Homo sapiens: one gene and its partner. The protein of the gene in region 2 purifies or fractionates together with the protein of the main gene of each other region. This does not show direct contact. Each region holds a gene or a part of one and is shown on either strand. Other genes may lie near its edges.

What was found.
Region 1: the proteins of PTPRU (region 2) and GOLIM4 purify together in Homo sapiens (affinity purification with mass spectrometry; 4 studies listed by BioGRID and IntAct, with this or other methods). This does not show direct contact.

The regions. Positions count from the first base shown.
Region 1 is NC_000003.12:168,021,781-168,031,642, reverse strand, and holds part of GOLIM4 (Golgi integral membrane protein 4), read left to right. Parts: intron 1-1,606; coding exon 1,607-1,863; intron 1,864-2,340; coding exon 2,341-2,420; coding exon of another isoform or gene 2,421-2,423; intron 2,424-3,805; coding exon 3,806-3,915; intron 3,916-6,547; coding exon 6,548-6,715; intron 6,716-7,048; coding exon 7,049-7,117; intron 7,118-9,862. UniProt on the Homo sapiens protein: Plays a role in endosome to Golgi protein trafficking; mediates protein transport along the late endosome-bypass pathway from the early endosome to the Golgi.
Region 2 is NC_000001.11:29,252,555-29,262,416, reverse strand, and holds part of PTPRU (receptor-type tyrosine-protein phosphatase U isoform 1 precursor), read right to left. Parts: intron 7,143-9,862; coding exon 7,011-7,142; intron 3,913-7,010; coding exon 3,641-3,912; intron 3,157-3,640; coding exon 3,075-3,156; intron 2,969-3,074; coding exon 2,853-2,968; intron 2,548-2,852; coding exon 2,373-2,547; intron 1,808-2,372; coding exon 1,514-1,807; intron 1-1,513.

The DNA of each region.
Region 1 (9,862 bases), on a different chromosome or scaffold from region 2:
TCCAGTCTTGTGTCCTTCCCCAATAGGGGAAGTAATTCCCCACCAGCTTTACTTCCCAACCCTCTACCTCTTTCCTTAAGTGAGAATTGTGTGTGCTTTTGTTAGTTGGGGTATGGCAGGGAGGATGGGTAGTAGCTCAATGGGGTACAGACACTTTTTATTGATGCATAATATATGTATATATTTTCAGAGTATGGGCGATATTTTGAAACATTCATATAATGTATAATGATCAAATCTAGATAACCCATCACATCAAACCTAGATAACCCATCACATCAAACATTTATCTCTTTTTTATTTTGGGAGCATTCAAATTCTTCTAGCTGTTTTGAAATATAAGATAGATTATTGTTAATCGTAGTCACCCTACTGAACTACCAAACATTAGGTCTTATTCCTTCTCTCTAACTATATGTTTGTACCATTCATCAGTCTCTCTTCATCCCCCTTCCCAGCTTCTAGTAACCACCAATCCACTCTATCTTATCAATATCGCTTTTTTAAGCTCCTACATGAATGAGAATATGCAATGTATGTCTTTCTGTGCTTGAAGTTTTTCACTTAACATAATGGCCTCCAGTTCCATCCATGTCACTGCGTATGACAAGATTTCATTCTTTTTTATGACTGTGTATATGTACCACATTTTCTTTATCCATTCATCCGTTGATGGATGCTTAGGTTGATTTCATGTTTTAGCCATTGTGAGTAATGCTGCAATAAACCTGAGAGTGCAAGTATCTCTTCAATATAGCAATTTCCTTTCTTTTGGATATGTGCCCAGTAATAGGATAGCTGGATCATATGGTGGTTCTATTTTTAGCTTTTTGAGGAACCTCCATACTGTTTTTCATATTGGCTATACTAATTTACATTCTCACCAACAGCGTACGAGGGTTCCCCTTTCTCCACATCCTCACTAGCGTTTGTTGTTGCCTTTTTGATAAAAGCCATTATAACTGGGGTGAGATAATATCTCAGGGAAGCAGAGTTTTAAGAATTGCTGTATCAGATTTCCCTTTAATCAGAAGGCACCATCTTCTCAGCCATTCTTAGTTTCTTTGAAAAAAAATTGAATATCTGCTTTTCCACTATTACCTGGAATGTGGCTTTTTTTTTTTTTTTTTTTGGCTATGCTTAGCCTGGGATTGGTATATACATTACTAGAGTTAATTAGCATCCCTCGGTCTTTAACTGTTCATGGAAAAAGCCTTAGGCGTAGCATAAGGTCACAGATTGCCCAGTTAATGTGAAGTTACCAAAGTTACCAACTACTTGTTTATATCAGAGCCTTGTGAACATAAATTTTACAGTTTGAAACTGTTATCTTCGGTTGTCCCTTCTGTTCCATTTGAGAAGGGAGCACATTGAAAATCTGCCTTAATAGCAGTAGTTGGAAATATCAGCTGCTAAAAAAGCCAAGGGTGATTCAGAGAAAGTTGGGAAATAGGAGTTTTTGGACTTCATGTATAATCACAGTTCACCTGACAAATAGTCGTTAATAAACCAGCTCTGCCTCCTGAGTTTGTCAGGAGAAACAAATGAAGAGAAAACCCAGAGGAGCTAACCCCTCTTGCTCTGCACCAACTCTTTTTCACCCTAGGTGTACCCTTCAGCCAAGCCAATGATCAAATTCCAATCACCCTATGAGGAACAGTTGGAACAGCAGAGACTGGCAGTGCAGCAGGTGGAGGAGGCCCAGCAGCTGCGGGAACACCAGGAAGCTTTGCACCAGCAGAGGCTGCAGGGGCACTTACTACGGCAGCAGGAACAGCAGCAGCAGCAGGTGGCAAGAGAGATGGCCCTGCAGAGGCAGGCTGAGCTTGAGGAGGGCCGGCCGCAGCACCAGGAGCAGCTCCGGTAGCCTTCCCCTTCCTTAATGAACGAAGACAGCCCCTGCTCCAGTTTTCATACGCAAATTAAAAACAGTTTTGTGCATTTGTGATTCATGAAGTTAAGGGGCTCATATTGCTCAAATAGCCAAGGCAGGACAGCTACTTGAAAATTAAATACCAAATATTTAATTTTAAAAATAATATTTTTTTTCTGCTCAAAAGTGGTAGGTTAGGTCTCCAAATAGCCTTGCAGGCTTTGTGCCAACTTTATTTTATTTTATCTTTAAAAGATATTTTATCTTTTTAAGATACCTTTTGAAAGTGTATCTGGAATTTTTATTATACCTAATTGCATACATAAGAGGTTTTTAAAAATTTTTCATGGCTTCTTAAAAATGTTGAGAAACATTACTTATTACTGTCTTTAAAGATAAATGACCTATGTCAAACTGTGCCTCTGAATTTTGTCCCACTGGATTTATCATGTTTGTGTCTCTTGTAGGCAGCAAGCTCATTATGATGCTATGGATAATGATATCGTTCAGGGAGCAGAGGACCAGGGAATCCAAGGAGAGGAAGGAGGTGGTGAGACTTCCTAGATGATGAATGTTTTAATAAATTACTTGATAACATTGTATATTATCAGTGAGCCAATATTATATAACATCAATGAGCTGTATGCATACCTAAGTGCAAAGGAGGTTTGTGAATCATGTCTTTTTCTTAATCCTCTTAAACAGTACATGCTGGTAGTGAAAAATGCTCAAGATAATCTGTTTCCTCTCTATCATTTTCCCTGTAGTTTAAGCTTTTTATATACTAAATATTTATAATATTTCTGACAAATTATTATAGGATTATTATGCTTTGGGAAACATCTGCATTTTCTCCTTACCTTGGAAGTCCTCACATCATTGCCTTAAAATGTTTTCAAATTAAGTCAATAGTAGCTTTCATTTATGATAAGCACTTAATATGTAATTTATCAAATATTGCTTACTGTTATAATAGAACCAGAATGTAACTTACTGTCTCTCTGGCACCACTAACACTTAGATGTGTATCTTTTTCTAAAAAGTCAGAAAGAAAGTGATTACATACAACCTCCCTCAATAGCCCGTTGTGATATCTTACAGCTCTTACAGTCAAGAAATTGTTTTCCTTATGTCCGCCATGTGGCACTTTAAGCTTTTTTGTTCTCATATCAGTAAGACTAGAGAATGGCTTGTCCTCTTCTCTATGTAGTAAACCCCTTTGTGCACTTGAAGGCTGATGGTAAGTTACCCCGTATCATCATTTTCTCTAGGCTTAGTACACTCCATATACTTAAACTTTCCTCTTCTATCTTACTTGTTTTAAAAAGTGATTTGTTCTTCTCTTTTTGTGCTCATACAATTCTCTTTATCTAAATATTTTTTCAAAAAGCAGCAAGTAAATGTCTGAGTATGAATGTGTGCTGTTTCTGGGCTGTGGCGGTCATCATCATTACTGTGATGACATCAGAAAACATGTGATGGGCTATATTTGTTTCTGAGCTCCACAGATGGGGCAGTTCTTCCTTGCATTTCCTGAAACTATCAATTTCTTCTTTTGGAGCCCAGCTACTTCCTCTGATATTATCAAACATTAGTTGATTTCTTCAGCAGTGTCCAATCAACTGGGCTTTCTTTTATTGAGAGAGTTTTGATTGTTGTTGTTTTCTTGCATATGGGGGAAAAATTACAGCTCCTGTGAAAAATATTTATTTTAGAAGAAAAGTGTCTGACCCATATCATCTCTCTAGACACACAGTCTGTGAAGAGAACATAACCTTATTCAGAAAAGCCAGGACATAGGCCTTATGTTGAGTTAACAGAGGTGGAGGTATTGTAGTCTGTAGAAAAGTCCACTGGTGGCTTTTCTTTGAGTTGAAAGGGAAATCCTGTTTGATTCATTTTGGGCTGATTTTAGTTCCTTTGATTTGCTAGCCTATGAAAGAGACAACCAGCACCAAGATGAAGCAGAAGGAGATCCAGGTAATAGACATGAGCCTCGTGAACAAGGACCCCGAGAAGCCGACCCAGAATCTGAGGCAGATGTAAGTATCCTCTCTTCTGCCCCTGACACATGTAAACTCATAAGGTGGGAAAGAGAGTTGAAAACTTGCCTGATGCCAGCCTTCAGCCCCAGATATTTCTGTTATATCCTCAGCCCAGAAGGAAAATGGCTTGCATAATTATATATGGGCAGTGTTTTTAACTGTAAACCATGGTGTACGTGTATGTGATGAGCTGGTTTAAAAGTTGCTCTGGGGGAAAAAAAAAAACAAAACCAGGATTTTTTTTTTCTGATGACTTTTAGATTAATAAAACTAAAACCTAGAAAAGCAAAACTGAGAGACACTGAAATATGTAGTAACTCTGAAAGCTAGGAGGAATAAAAGGCAAGTGTGGAAGTTGGAGATGGGACCAGAGAAAGGAAACTAACCCTTCCTGAGCATGTTGAGCAGTCTGCTAGAGTGTTAGGTATTTGTGTGACTCTCTGTAATCTCTTAGCAGTCTAGTGACCATTTTAATAAATATATGGATAAGGATATGTGGTCTGAGACATGAAGAGTTGTTCAGGTATGCAATGGTACAGAAAATTTATAATATAAGTAGGTAGACATCTAATAACCAGCATTGTTGTTTGTGTTTACCAAAAAAGACTGAGACCTCTAGTTCAGCTGGGTGGGCTAGATCCTTGGCCCTGCCTACAAGTGAAGCAAGCAAATGTTTAGTGAGTCTGTTCCTGCGTGTATGCGTAGATGATTTTTACAGCTTATTTTAGCTGCCCTGTCATCTCTTGCTAATAGATCAACTACCATGTTTATAACAGTCGGTCTGTGCTATGTCACATGAGCCCTGATTAAAAGGAGGACCCATGTCCTTGCTAATCATCAAGAAAGTCATCCTGCTAGCTACTTAAAGCCCTTTTGCTGGAAACAGCTTTTCCACTTAACTTGCACTGAGATGTGGCAGAACACCTTTCCCTGGCATTCCTTGCATCAAGATTTCTGAAAATATGCTCCAGGGAACCTAGTCCTGAAATATTTTCAGGAAAAGGCTAATACTTGAGAGCAGAAACATATGAGAGAGCAAGAGACTATCCAGGAGAGAGCAAGAAAGCAAGTGTACAAAGGCCTGCAAATGTGCATGGGGTGGGAGGAAGGGCATTTCAGTCACTTGTTTGGGAACTGCTGTAGGCTTTGATTTCTTGACTATATGATCCTTTACTTTCCTGTCATCTGTTTGTTTGTTTTGGGGAACATGCTGGGAAACATTGGCCTTTGTACCATTCTTCCTTTTAATTAGAAATGGTTAATCCCACTTGTTCCTCTCTTTCTGTTTTATTTGAACGTAACAACTGTGCCTGCTAATTCATACCTGTTACGTGGTCGGAGTTGAGCTAGTCAATTTTATGAACGTTTGCAAAAGATATTTGGTACTTTTTTCTGAAAAGAATATGTTACATTTTTCCTGTAATTCCATACAAATTTTTGATAGTGCACTAAAGAAAATCCATATGACAAGAGATTGTGGAGTAATTAGAGTTTAGTGTGAAGGTGGTAATTTGGTAGTCTCTACGTTCCCAAGAATAGTGTCATTTGCACTGGAGTAACATTCATGGCCAGGGATGTGCAGATAATAGATCAGCTGAGATGGCAGTGAACTCTCAAACATGTTCAAGACTCCTAAGTGAATTGAAGTAGAATCTTGTCTGGAGAATACTGATAGAGACCAAATCCTACTCTGTGGCTTTACTGTCTCTTAGAAGCATTTACAGCTTAGTAAGTGTCCTATTGATGACCTGCGAGTGATTGGGGAAGCTCATGACAAGCATCACTGTTCCTCTCCATCTCAGGCTCTAAAATCTAAATCTTTATTAGGATGTGTATTATTTGGAAGGTGCTTTGGGAGCTTAAGTGGAAAATTGAAATAATTCTAAAGTTGATAATATGAAGGGCCTTTGTTGAGCACAGTAATTTGGGAGATGAGTTGGGAGGACATTTTTCATAATATATTGCCCTATTGGGCAGTTGGGTAGCTCAGCCCTTTTTAACTCCCATCCCTCGCCAGTTCAGCATCTCTCTGTTTCATGGGAATGATTGTTAATAAAGAAATTGGATCCATACTAGAAAATGACCATTTCCTTTTGAATTAGCCTTTTTCTTGTCTCCTTTTCGTATCCTTTTTATGGGTCCTTTCTGGTATGGGCCTTCTTTCCCATCAACAACTTTTCACCTGCTGACATGTTAAAAATTGCTTGCACAGGGAAGTTACTATAAAAATCAACATAGCAAAAAGAGTTAATTGCCCATCTAAATCCCCCACCTAAATTAGTATTTTTTTTGTCACTTGGTCCTCTGACTTTTATTAATTATTTTCTTGTTTATTCAGTTCTGTTCACATTACTTGTGTCAGTAGAGTTTTGAGAACTATTTTGAAATCACTTGCAGGAAAGAAGTGCTATTTGAACCTCATTCTGATTCATCAAGCCTCTGACAAGTAAAGCAGGAGTTTTCTCTTTTGACAGTGTGATGCTTGATTCTTGTGAGTCTTGGCAAGGATAGATCTGAACAATTGAGGGAAGGACAATTTCATTTTCTGCCAGTGGGCAGCCTTTTCAAATGAAATTAAACTTGATCCTCAGTTTTGAAGTGATAGTTGCTTTTTATTAAAATTTTACAGAGGGCAGCTGTAGAAGATATAAACCCAGCAGATGACCCTAATAATCAAGGTGAGGATGAATTTGAAGAAGCCGAGCAAGTGAGAGAAGAAAATTTGCCAGATGAAAATGAAGAGCAAAAACAAAGTAATCAAAAGCAAGAGAATACAGAAGTGGAGGAACATTTGGTGGTAAGCAGATGCCACGAGGAAGGGTGGATTTAACTGGGCTATTTTAAGAAACATCTGGTTTATGTAAAAGGTTAGTCATATTCCACATTGACGGAAGGTTTGCCACTTCGGTGGTTTTTAGGCCACTTTATGACATGATATGCCTGTACTCTGAGAGAGAGGGTAACGGACATCCTGGGCTTTGTATTGGGAATGATTACTCATCATTTCCTGGCCACAGACGCTTTGAAAGTGCCCTTTTCATGGTGGCATGCTTGTTCTTTGTCCCAGAGTACTGTGTAAAAGGCATCTCTGATGTACAGTAACATGAACCTGCCCTTTTGTTTCCAACAGATGGCAGGAAATCCAGACCAGCAGGAGGACAATGTTGATGAACAGTACCAGGAAGAGGCAGAAGAGGAGGTAGTAAGGATTGAATCCCAGAGACTGATCAGATTGGTCTGTCACACACACTAACCTTAAACAAACCTCAGCAGTATTGACTTTGACATGCCTTCCACAGAAATGTTCAGAAAAATTTAAGCAGGATAAGAAAGGGTGGTTTAAAGCAAAAATGGATCATGGCACTGGAGACATTTGGTTAGAAGATAACAAAAGCAGGGTAATAGAATCCATCTCTTTGGTTCTCACCTGAAATTTTGAATTAAGAAGGCATTTGGCTTTCCAGGAATGGTGGACTTAGATTTGTGCAATCTTTTGTAAGAATATTTTCTCCTCTCTCCCTCTGCACATTGAGGGAATCTGGACTGCCCCTGTAACTTTCTCTTCAGGCATCTCCCCAGTGCCTACCTCACAGGAATACCCCATAGTGTCTATCGGAATCCACTTAACACCCTCCAAACATTTTTGTAAATTTTACAGTCTCTCCTTCTGGCCTCTTCCTTCTTAAGAATTCAGTATCTTAATTAAATTTAACAATAAAAGAGGAGGAAAAAGATGTAAAGAGCTCAGCTGAATAAAATGCATTTGGATAGAGTTTCTTAATATTTTAGTTTGCTTTTCATTGTAAACTTCGGGCATCTTGTTGTTAATTAGATATAAGTAGCGTTTATTGTGGTGCTGCTTACGGTGTAGTTGATTATTGTGGTGCTGCATGTGGTGTAATTGGTGAATGCTGCTTGTTGTAGCCGTTTTATCACAGCATTCCGCTGCATAAACAACTGCAATATTTAAGAGTCTGATACAAATTAGGCCAAGACCCTGTATTTAGTCTCATTATGGACCAGTAAGTAGTTCCCAAATTAAAACCCTGGTTCAGAGCTGCTTCTCAGCCAGGTGTCTTGCAAATGTGTGGTTTTATCCCTATGGGGAACCCCATGGGAGGATGGACATATGGCAGACTGAACAGACACACCCCATCACTGGAGATCCTGTGCAGAAATCATGAGCTGTGCTCTCACACACACAGTTCCCTCGACTAGGTCTGCTTTCTTGTTCTTACTGATTTTGTAAGCTTTTCAGAGCTGATGATAAAATTTGTGCTTATACCAGGAAAACAGAAAAGGATGTTGCTCTTTAAGGTCACTGGCAACATTTCTAATAACATGCACTTTAACTGGCTTGATCTTTTTGTTCTTTGGTTTCTCATCCTAATCAAGACCCTTGGCTGTCTTGTCAGAAAGAGAGCAGCAGAGAAAATAGTGACCTTGAATATTAAGACATTGGGCAAGAAAAAGATATTCATCCAGGCTTCTCATATAACAGGATGTCTAGACTAATACCACTTTGTTTTATTATGTCCAATACTAGGAATCTTTGAGGGATTAAAAGAGAAAAGTTCACCTTGGCTTCTTTTTTAAAAATTCAGAAGATTAAACATAAAATTTTAACCAGTGTTTACTGATTCCTTTTCAATTTTATATTATGATCAGTTAAGGTACAGGAGAGAAATCCTGAGATCCAAGAGGAATCAAGAGTAGAAAGAGAAGAAAGAGGCAAGAGGAAAGGAGAAATGGTGCTAAGACAGAGGAGGTTGCCCTGGCTGAGTGCTGCCTAAACTCAGCAACTGCTCCTCATCCCACCAGTCATCCCCTTCAGATCTGCTGGACTGACAGGACTCTTCCTCTTGCTGCACCTGGCCCCAGGTCCTAATTCGGTTTACCTGGTTCCCTGCCAAAAATTCTTAAAGCAGTGTTCAGGCCTCCTCCAGCATGTGCTCCAGGTTACCACCCCATCACTGAGAACTGTTGCTCCATGTGCTCTTAGTGGAAGTCCCACGTGCCTTTTTTTCTTCCCAGTGTAAACTTTCCTCTCTGCCCCCGAGTGTCCCTTGTTCATGTTGTGTTGTATTTTTGTGTGTGGTTATGAGATGATTAATGTTTGCATCTTCCCACCTCTGTCCATCGTTCCCAGGTCTTCCCTTGAGAGAGGAGAAGAGTGGTTCCCAAATACCATTTAAGCACTAGTGATAGAGACAAAGTTCTTGTCAGACTATGGCAAAATGAGAAAAATAAAGGGGAACATAGAATATGGAAACACATACTGCATTGTTTATAAGTGCATATGTGTATGAAACCTCATTGGTGGAAGCACTCTGAAAAACCATGAAATGTTGTGGAACTGTGCATTATTGTTGTTGTTGTTTTTTTTTTTTTAATCTCCATTTAACCTTAGAGTCTTGCAGCTGCCCCAGCTAACCACTAGAATGCAAGGCCTGTGGCTGCCATCGCTTCCCTTCCTCTCCAGCGCACAAACTTATTTCTGTCAGCATTTCCTCCTGGGGAAGAATTGCCTCTTGCCTGGGCCACACCTGTTCAGAGGTATAGCCCATCAAACTTACAGACTTGGCCTCTAAGAGGACCCAAAAGAAGTATGATTTTAGGAAATTTATACTACTCTGCCTTCTTTTATCTTAGTGCAGTAGTGTTATCTTTCTAAGACTTACAAGCATTTCTTGTTTCTTGTTTGGGATTGTTTGAATGGAAGGCATGATCCCTTCCTTACGTTGCTTACATTCCAAACGTTTTATCGCCTTGTAAGCAAACAAGACAATTTATGGCATTGCCAAAAAGTGCCGTGTAAGCTTTAAAATTACTTACATGTTCAAAAATATATAGATTAAATGACCAAGAAATCAGAATACTTTAATTTCCCTCAGTGTAACTGAAAACTGATTAATCTGAACATGCAGAAGAGAATAAGTACAAG
Region 2 (9,862 bases):
AAAACCATAGAAGGAGAAACTTCAGATACACGGGGACTACCGTATACTAAAAACCACTGAACTGTACATTTTAAGGATTGAATTGTATGAGATGTGGATTATATTGCAATAAAGCTGTTATCCAAAAAAAGCCAATTCTAGAGGTTATATACTCTGATTTCATTCATATAATATTTTTGAAACAACAAAATTTTAGAAAGGACAGATCAGTGACTACCAAAAGTTGGGGAGTAGAGGAAGAAAGGGAGGTGAATGTGGTTATAAAAGAGTCCTTAAGGGGATTGAACTATTCAGTATTTTGACTGTAGTGGTGAATACACAAACCTACACATGTGATAAATTGTGCAGAACTACATACACATATACACACACACAAACAAGTACAAGCAAAACCAGAAAAGTCTGAATAAGATCTGTGGTTTGTATCAATGTGAATATCTTGACTGTGATATTATGCTATAGTTTTGCAACATGTTACCACTGCAGAAAATAGGGTGACTTGCACAGAGAATCTTTCTGTATTTTTTTTACAACTGCATGTGACTCTACATTTATCTTAGTAAGTCCATTAAAAAAACACACTAAGCCAGGCACGGTGGCTCACGCCTATAATCTTAGCACTTTGGAAGGCCGAGGCGGGTGGATCACCTGAGGTCAGGAGTTTGTGACCAGCCTGGCCAACCTGGTGAAACTCTGTCTCCAGTAAAAATACAAAAATTAGCCAGGCATGGTGGAGCATGCCTGTAATCCCAGCTACTCGGGAGGCTGAGGCAGGAGAAGAATCACTTGAACCCAGGAGGCGGAGGTTGCAGTGAACCAAGATCGCGCCACTGTGCTCCAGCCTGGGTGACAGAGCAAAACTCTGTCTCAAAAGGAAAAATAATAACAACAACAATACTAAAGTCACAAAAAGAAAAACCTATTGTGTTCTCAATTTCTCTTCTGATTAAACAAAAAAGACCCTCATCTGGCACAGGTGTACCATCCTCCAACAGCTGCTTTGCCCTTTTTAACAAGGAAGAGCAGACCTCAGGCTCAACACCCAGACAAGAGAAACCAGCTAGAATGTATAATATACTTGTATTTGATGGTATTTAGTTGCTTATTTTATCTAGATGTAGAATTAAGAACACAGATTCTGGAGTCAGCCAGTCAAGAGTTCCAATCCCATCTCTGCCACTTACTAGCTGTGTGCTCTTGGGCCAGTCACTTAACATCTCTGTACCTCAGTCACATCTAAAATGGGTACGACAAGAGCACCTACATCGTGGTAGTGTTGTAAGTTTTAAATCTATAAATATGGGTTTGTGTGTGTGTCTACACACAGATATGTTTAAGTGCCTGACACAAAGTAAAGTATTAGCTATCATTATCTTTACCATAACAAGGGTTGAGGAAAAATCACAATGTTTTAGAAAGGTTTACAAGCACAGGCCACGCTACCTCTCGAATGCGCCCCTCCATAGCCCTGGGCCCACCAGAGACTGAGGCCAGGGGTAGCTGCTGCACCCACCTGCGCATTTGGTGCGGCTGATGAGGGGTGGCCCAGGGCGGCCAGTGCCGCCGTCTCCGGGACGCGTGAGCAGCACGCTGATCTCATACTCTGTGTCGGGGTCGAGGTGCCACAGCTTGTAGGTCTGCAGGCTGACGGCGTGCACCTCAGCCCAGGGCCCGCGCGCCATGCGGTACTCAATCTCCTTGCGCACGATCGGCCCGTCGCCAATGATGGAGTTGGTGTTGAGCTGGATGATGAGGTAGGTGGGGCCAGCACGCAGCAGCTGTGGGGGCGCGATGGGAGTTGGGGGCTCTGCGAGGAGATGGGGGAGAGGCGAGGCGGACCGATGCTGCTGTGAGACCCCAGCACCCAACTCTGAGTTCCACCACACCCAAATCCCTCTCCGTCCTCCTAGGGCCTCTCACGCTGCTACCAAGCCCTCAACCAGACCCGCTCTCCTACCCCCACTAAATCCCGGGCCCTAAGGGGCACCTGGCTCCAAAGGCTGACCCCGCCCTCGCCCATCAGCCCACAACCCCTCTCTCAGGCCCCTCCTAATCCCCCACATCCTCGCCTCCTGGAGCGGACCGCAGGCCAGCTAGGATCAACACAGAAGTCACACAGCCAGAACCCCACCCCTCTTTAGGCTCTCACCTTGACCCTGTCCGTCCCCCTCGAAGCCAGCCCCGACCCCTAGATCAGATCTCATCCCGGCTGGGCCACTGCCATTTCCACAGGCCCATCTTCAGATAGCGCCCCAGCGACACCCTGCCGGCCCCACCCCCCACGGCCACGCCCCCGGGCAGAGCCCGCCCCCGTCGCCGGCCCCGCCCCTCGAGGGTGAGGTCCCGGCGCTCCCCGGCGTCCACCAGCTGACCCTTGACGATGAGCTCCGCGAAGTTAGAGACGCCCGCGCCGCGCGGGGCCTGGGACACACAGCGGTACAGGTCCTGCTCGGCGCGGCTCACGGCAGCCAGCGGGAAAGTGGCCAGGAAGCGCCGGTGGCTGATGTGCCGCACGCCCGCCGCCGGCACCAGCGCCCCGCTCTGCCGCTGCAGGGAAGAGAGTGAGGGGGTCAGGGGCGCCTCGGAGCGAGGGGTCCCGATCTCGCTCTGACCCGGGCCCCATTTAGCCGTCCCTACTACACCGCGCGGACATAGGTTCCTGGAGCCGCGCTCTAACCTGGGGGAATGGGGGACCCAAGAAAGCGCAGAGCAGAGCTAGGGGAGGGCCGGGACGCTGTGCGCAGTGCTGGAGTATGAAGCAGGGACTCAGCAATCTGGGGGGAGTCAGGGCCAGAAGCAGCCACCAACCCCCTCCCACCCCGCCCCCAGCCAAGATCACCGCTCCCGCTCACTTGCAAGAGGAAGCGTTCGGCCTCGGCCGCTCTGCCCGCGGCCATGCACTGGAACGACGCGTTCTGGCCCGCGTTGACCTCCACGTCGCCCAGGCGGGAGAAGTGTGGGGCCTTTGCTGCGGGGTTAGAGCTGCATCGTGAGCTGGGCCTGCACCCCCTGCAGGCAGGAGCCGCGGCCGCCCACACCCCTTACCCCTGCGCCCCCAGTGGGCTGGGACTCACCGCAGGGGTAGCTGAGAAGCAGGATGTCATCTAGGCCCATGTAGCCCCTGCGGTCTGGGGAGATGAGGGCCTCAAACAGCACCTGGGGGAGGCGGGAGGGCCCCTATCATACTGATATTCCTCCAGCCTTGCCTGGGGAGGTGCCCACTTTCAGCTCGGCCTCAGCCTCCTCTGCCTCAACTAGCAGAGGTCAGCCCAGCTCACACTGACCCTCCCTCCCAAGCCAGCTAGTTGGGGGTGGGGTCCCAGCGCCCATAGTGAACAAGGTGGAGGCCAGTTTCCACCCAAATCCTGGACAGTTACCCTCAAGCAGCCAGACAGAGTTTCCAGGTCAGCACTGTTCCAACTCACCCTTGACCTGGGCCAGAGGCTATTCCTAGGAACAATGACCTCAGATGCTGAACCCAGACTGGCCCCAGACTGACCCCTGGCCTTGACCACAGGTTGCCTCTGATACTGAATGCAGACACATTCTAACTTCAGCCACTCATCTACTCCAACCTCAATTTGACATCCATCTGCCCCACCTCCAGGCACAGGCTGACCGCTGACTGAACCCAGCCCACCTGATATTCATTGGGCCAGAAAGTGCTGACAGCCAGCTCAGCCTGGTGCCACTGACGGCCGTGGGATCCAGTCATATTCCACACAGCACTGCCCAGGGGGCCCCCATTAACGCGCACGTAGACGCCCAGGGTGCCCGGGCTGTGCCCGTCCCGGCTGTACAGGAAGTAGCTGAACTGCACACAGTGGGTATCATTCTCGCTCAGGCTCTGGAAGATGACATGGGCTCGCTGGCCTGGGGCATGCTGGGAAGTGTTGACCATCAAGTAGGAGCCTGGAAAGAGAGGAGGAAGAGGCAGGAGATGAGGAGACCTCAGGGGAGGGACAGGGCCAGGGCAAGGGGAGCACTGAGGAGGACTCCAGGCAACGGGACCCACCAGGAGTCAGGGATTCTGAGTTCTGGCCCCAGCTCCACCTCCCTGGGTGAGTCCCTTCACTTCCTAGCATCTGTTTCCCACAGGAGACCTGGAGCAGTAAAAAACACACAAACCTGACTTTGTCAAAACCATTTAAAGGCTGGGCGCGGTGGCTCACGCCTATAATCCCAACACTTTGAGAGGCTGAGGTGGGTGAATCACCTGAGGTCAGCAGTTCGAGACCAGCCTGACCAATATGGTAAAACCCTGTCTCTACTAAAAAAACAAAAATTAGCAGGGTGTGGTAGCATGTGCCTGTAGTCCCAGCTACTCGGGAGGCTGAAACAGGAGAATTGCTTGAACCTGGGAGGCAGAGGTTGCAGTGAGCCAAGATCACGCCACTGCACTCCAGCCTGGGTGACAGAGCAAGACTCGGTCTCAAAAAGAAAAAAAAAATTATGGCTCCTTACAATCTACAGGTCACAATGCCCATGCCCAGCCTAACCACAGCTTTCCCCATGTTCTGAGCTATCCCTGGAGACAGGGACTAGGTCATTCATCCCTGGAGTCAAGAGCTTGGCACACAACAGTCCCTCAAAGGCCACCCCTTCCAAAGCCCTCCCTCTGCCTCCCACCCTGGGCTTCTCTCCTGCCCCCTGGGTCATTACTAAAGTGCCTGTGTGTCTCCCACCAGGCTGTGAGGCCTCAGGACGCAAGCTGAATGAATATGTAGAACAGAGATTGAATGAAAGGATTCCAACTTCCCTTCCAGCCCCCATCCCTGAGTCTAAATTCCTGGAATACAAATCCCCTTGACTTCCAACCTGGAGAAAGGCAGCCTGTCCCTTCCCCAGAGACCCAGGCTGGGTACTGGTGGAGTAGAAGTGGACTAGGCTGGCTCAGGACCTGGCGGGGGGATTTGGGCTTCCCAAAGGGCACCCGAAACCACCCAGCGCTGCCTCCTCCCGGGCTTGGCTGCCAGCCAACACAAGCTCACTCAGATCCCCGCTCCAGGAGGGCTCCCCAGGGACTCTGCTGGAGGCGATCTCATTCATCTCTGTAAGCTAGAAGCCCTATGGAGGCGGCTCCTGGATCAGTCCCAGCAGGGCAGTAGTAAACTAAACTCAAGTCCCCATCCCCACCCAGGAAGGGGCACTTCTCAACCCCCAACACACTCCCTCTTGGCCCACTCATGCTACTTCTCTCTCCTCTCCCTGCGAGCAGCTGTGTGCATCTTTCTCCCTCTTCCAATCTGACACTTTGTTCTTTCCTCCTCCTCCTGCTCCCTCTGCCTCCTCCTCGGCTCACTACATCCCTCCCCTTCTCTTTCATTTACTCCCTTTGTCCCTGTCGCTCTTCCTTCTCCTCTCTCCATCTCTGAGTGTGAATCTCCCTCCTTTCTTCTCCCTCCACCACCAGCTCCCATTCCTAGAATGTGAGAACCAGGAGGACAAAGACTGTCCATCTGGCTCACCACCACATCCTCAAGACCTAGCACAAGGCTCACACTAATTGCTAAATTCCCCTCTCCCCTTTCTCACTGGGTATGTCTCTGCTTGCACGTGACAAGAGAGGCAGTGTGCACTCAGGGTGGTCAGTACTATAAGAGGTGAATTCCAATCAGCTGCCTTGTACCTGACTGCCAACCATGTATCAGACTGAGGCTGGGCCCTGGGAATATGGAGAGGCCCACACGAGGTCCCTGCCATGGTGGGTACCTTTACAGATTATTTTCAGAGAAGGCAAACTGTGATACCCACTAACACCTGCAGAGGCAGAGATAAGTGCCCCAGGAAGGGCACAGTGTGAGCAAATGCACAGAAGGGGAGGCGGGGCAAGCCATGAGAGTCCGCAGGAGGCGCCTGTGCCAGGTCATGAAGGTCTTCTCTCCTAGTGGCTTCAAGTCCTGGCCCCACCACTGAGAATCTTTGCTGCCCCTCCCTGACAACAGATGCAATCTCAGCCATGACGTGAGCTAGGCAGTAAACACCCTGGGCACTAGTGTGATGGGGCAAAGGGAGTGGGCTTCAGGCTGTGGAATTTCAGGATTCACTCGGAAAGCCCATTTGATTTGTCCTCTGACACAGCCCTTATCAGTAATAAAGTTGACAATTTGGCCTTTATTTGTCTCATTCTTTTTTAATTCCCAGTTGATCCTGCATCCAGTGAAGAGCAGTACTAGTAATCAGGGCCCCCAAAGACCCTCAACCATAGCAATTAAATAACTGACCCCTGCATGCCACCCCTGTGCTCTGTACTTTATATGCATCATCTCATGACCCTCTGAAATGGAGTCCTGTTTGCCTCATTTTACAGTGAAGACAATGGAGGCTCAGATACGTTAAGTGACACTGCTGGTAAAGTGACTGGAGACAGGGTTTGAGCCCAGGTCTTCGTGACTCTGGAATGAGTGTTCTAGGGGCCATGATGAAAGCAGGAAGTCAGTACTAGAATCCATATTATTAGTCTCCTGACTCCCAGTCCAGAGCTCAGGATGACAAAGGTGCCCCATCTTGAAATAGGAACACAGCAAGGTAGAAGTCGAGAAGAATCTGGGACTTCCAGGAGGAAGAGGGCAGAGGAAGGAAGGTTTTATACACATCTAGTCCCAGTGTTACTGCTCTTTCAGCATCTTCAAGTCCTGGAGAGACCAGGATTCAGGGGCTCTTTGGGAGAAAAGAATCTCTGAAGAGAGCCTCTCAAAGATGGAGGATTTAGGAAGAACTGAGAGTGGGAGTGGTTTGGATCCTGAGCTAGGCAGCAAGGGGAGTAATTGGAAGTGAGTTTTAGCTCACAGCCATGAGGGCCTGCACTCATTTTACACACGAAACTAGCTGACATGCACAATTAGACAGTGTCCAGAGAAAGCCACATTCAGTGTCACGTATGTCATTAAAGATGCAAATGTAGATGGGGCCCAGAGAGGTTAAGTAATGTGCCCAAGGTCACACAGCAGGTGGGTAGAAGTGCCTCTGGAAGGAGAAGAAGGGGTAATGGCGATGGAGAGTAGACTTACCGTGGGGCAGGTCCGCAGGTGCCCGGGTGCCAGGGTGGATTCGCACTTGCTCCCACTGGAAGTCATCGTACTGGGCCTGGCTGTACTCGCAGGGCACTGCTGGGTCACTTGCCTCCTCGAAGGTGCAGCCAGCTGTGAGAGCAGGGCCTGGTTAGCCCAGGCTAAGGCAGGGCTGCTGGCCAGGAGGGCTCCTGGAGGGTAGCCCCACTCTCCCTTCTACCCAGGCCCACCTGCCCTCCTCCCTCTCTTCAGGCCCTTCCCCACACTGCTCCCTCCCTCTAGTGAAATTCTCCCTCCTCCACCCTCTCCCTCTACCAAGGTCCCCTCCCAATACCAAGATGTCCCTACACTGCCAACTCCCCCAGTACTTCCCAGGACCCCCCAACCACCACTGGCTCAGTCATCCATCAAAGACCCTCCTCAAAAACTAGTTATCAGGATTGCTATATTATTGGAACTTCACAACAACCCATAAGATCAGGAATAGAATCATCTCCACTTTGTGGATAAGGAAACTGAGACCCCAAAAGGCTGAGTGACTTCATTAGGGTCACGCAGGTCACTGGTGATGGAGGTGGGGTTTGAACTGAGATCTCCGGATTGTTACTCAGTGTTCTGTCACCTGCCCCTCTATCTTCCCATAGAGGACAGACAGTGGGCCCTGGGCCTGGCAGGACCATGCATGCCATAATCCAGCCCAATGAGATCTCCTTTAAAAACAACAGTTGCCGCCAATCCACTCAAGCCGGGCACAATGCTAAATGGCGTAAGTACAGAGCCTCGTTCAGGCCACGCGTTCTGAGTCAGGCACCACTATTTTTCCTACTTGACAGATGTCAATGGAATTCAGTCATTGCCCAAAGTCGGCCAAATTAGGTCTCTGCCTGCAGGAATGTGACATGCAAAAGCACAGTCATGTGTGGACTAGGCACATGTATGACTGACTAGATGAAGCAACTTCCCATGATTTGCAACCAGTACTAACAGTTGAAATGAGAAAGAGGGGAGGAAGTGAGGATTGAAATACATGTGAGTCCTTTGGTTGGTAATGAGGTCCATATATCTTAGTGAGTTCATCAAAGGCCTGAGCTGGTTGCCTGATAAACCTGAGAACACTATTGGTTCAGAAAGGAATTGCAAGCTTCTCCCTGGCACTCACTCCCAAACCTTAGTGTTTGGAGCCCCATCAGGAGCCTGAGGCATCAGAAACCCAGGAAAATGCCCAAGCAAGTGGCGAGGAAGCAAGCGCAAACCATGCCAGACCCTGTCCTGGGTACCTGCCAGCCACTGGTACTCCTCCCGATTTGACAGATGATGTGACTGAGGATCTGAGGAGTGAAGGGATTTGTCCACAGCACCACGTGGTGGATCAATGAGTGGGCTTTGGCATCACAGACTTGGGATCAAATCTTGACTGCAATTTGCCAAACCTTGTGACCAGGGGCAGGTGGCTTCTCTTTCTGAGCCTCTGTTTCCCTATCTGCACATAGGCTTGTTGAGGATTTGATGTAGTAGCCCACTTAGCACAACGCCTAGCATACTTAAGCACTCAGGAAATAGCAGCTCTTATGTGTACCATGCAAGTCTACTAGGGAACAGAGGTGGGATTTGAATCCATGTGGGTCAGATGATGAAGTCCAAGCTTCCCACCAAAAGAGGTTTCGATACCAGAAGGAGCAGACCTGAGCTGCTTCCCAATCTCAAGAAGAAGAGGGAGAGGTATAGATAGTTGTGATATTTACATATATTTGGTTAGTGCAAAAGTAATTGCAGTTTTTGCCATTTTTTTAAAGTAATGGCAAAAACAGCAATTACTTTTGCACAACATAATACATATTTATTTATATATATAAAACCCTTTGTACAGTCTTATGTTATAATGTTGGACACTTTAGGCCTCAGAAACAGGCCTCAGGAAACAAAATTTCTCTCTGACCTATTCCTGTCCTCCTTTCACCTGTCCAAGGCAGGGCTCTAATCTAATCATGGGTCATTCCAGAGAGGGTCCTGCCCCATACCCTAGAGGAAGGAATGCCACGGAAAGGCCAAGTAAAGTCTAAGCAGACAGGCCTTGCTGGGTTTAGATCAGGTGTTTTATGTGCAATCACATTTGTCCATCATGCTTATGTAAGGAAACCTCCGTAAATACCCAAAAGGACAGGGTTCGGAGAGCTTCCAGACAGCTGAACACATGGAGCTTCTTGGAGGATGGTGGGTCCAGAAAGGGCAAGGAAGCTCCATGTCCCTTCTCCCATACCTCACCCTATGCATCTCTTCATCTGTATCCTTTGCAATATCCTTTATAATTAACCAGTTAATGTGTTTCCCTGAGTTCTGTGAGCTGCTCCAGCAAATTAATCAAACTCAAAGAGGGGGTCGTGGGAACCCCAACCTGCAGCGGGTCGGCCAGAAGTTCTGGAGGCCCAGACTTGCGACTGGTGTCTGGAGGAGGAGGCAGTCATGGGGACTGAGCCCTCAACCCATGGGATCTGACTCTTGTGCTAGAACTGAATTGGAGGACACCCACCTGGTGTCTGCTACAGAATTAATTGCTTGCTTGGTGGTGGGGAGAAGCCCCCACACATTTGGTCACAGAGGCCTCCTGTGTTGATGACTGCTGCTGTGGTGGTGGGAGGGCAGAGGAAAAACACCGTTTGAGAGAGCTTTTCCCAAACAACAGCACCTGGGGAGTGAGTGCTATGTCACAGGCCCAGTGCTAGGCATCTTCACACGCAGCAAGCGACTTCACTTTTAGGAGGCTCTACTGTTTCATCTGCAGCTGCAACTCCTCTAGGCGGTGATGCGGATGATGTGAAGTAGCACATGAAAAACACACCCAGGCCAGGCGCGGT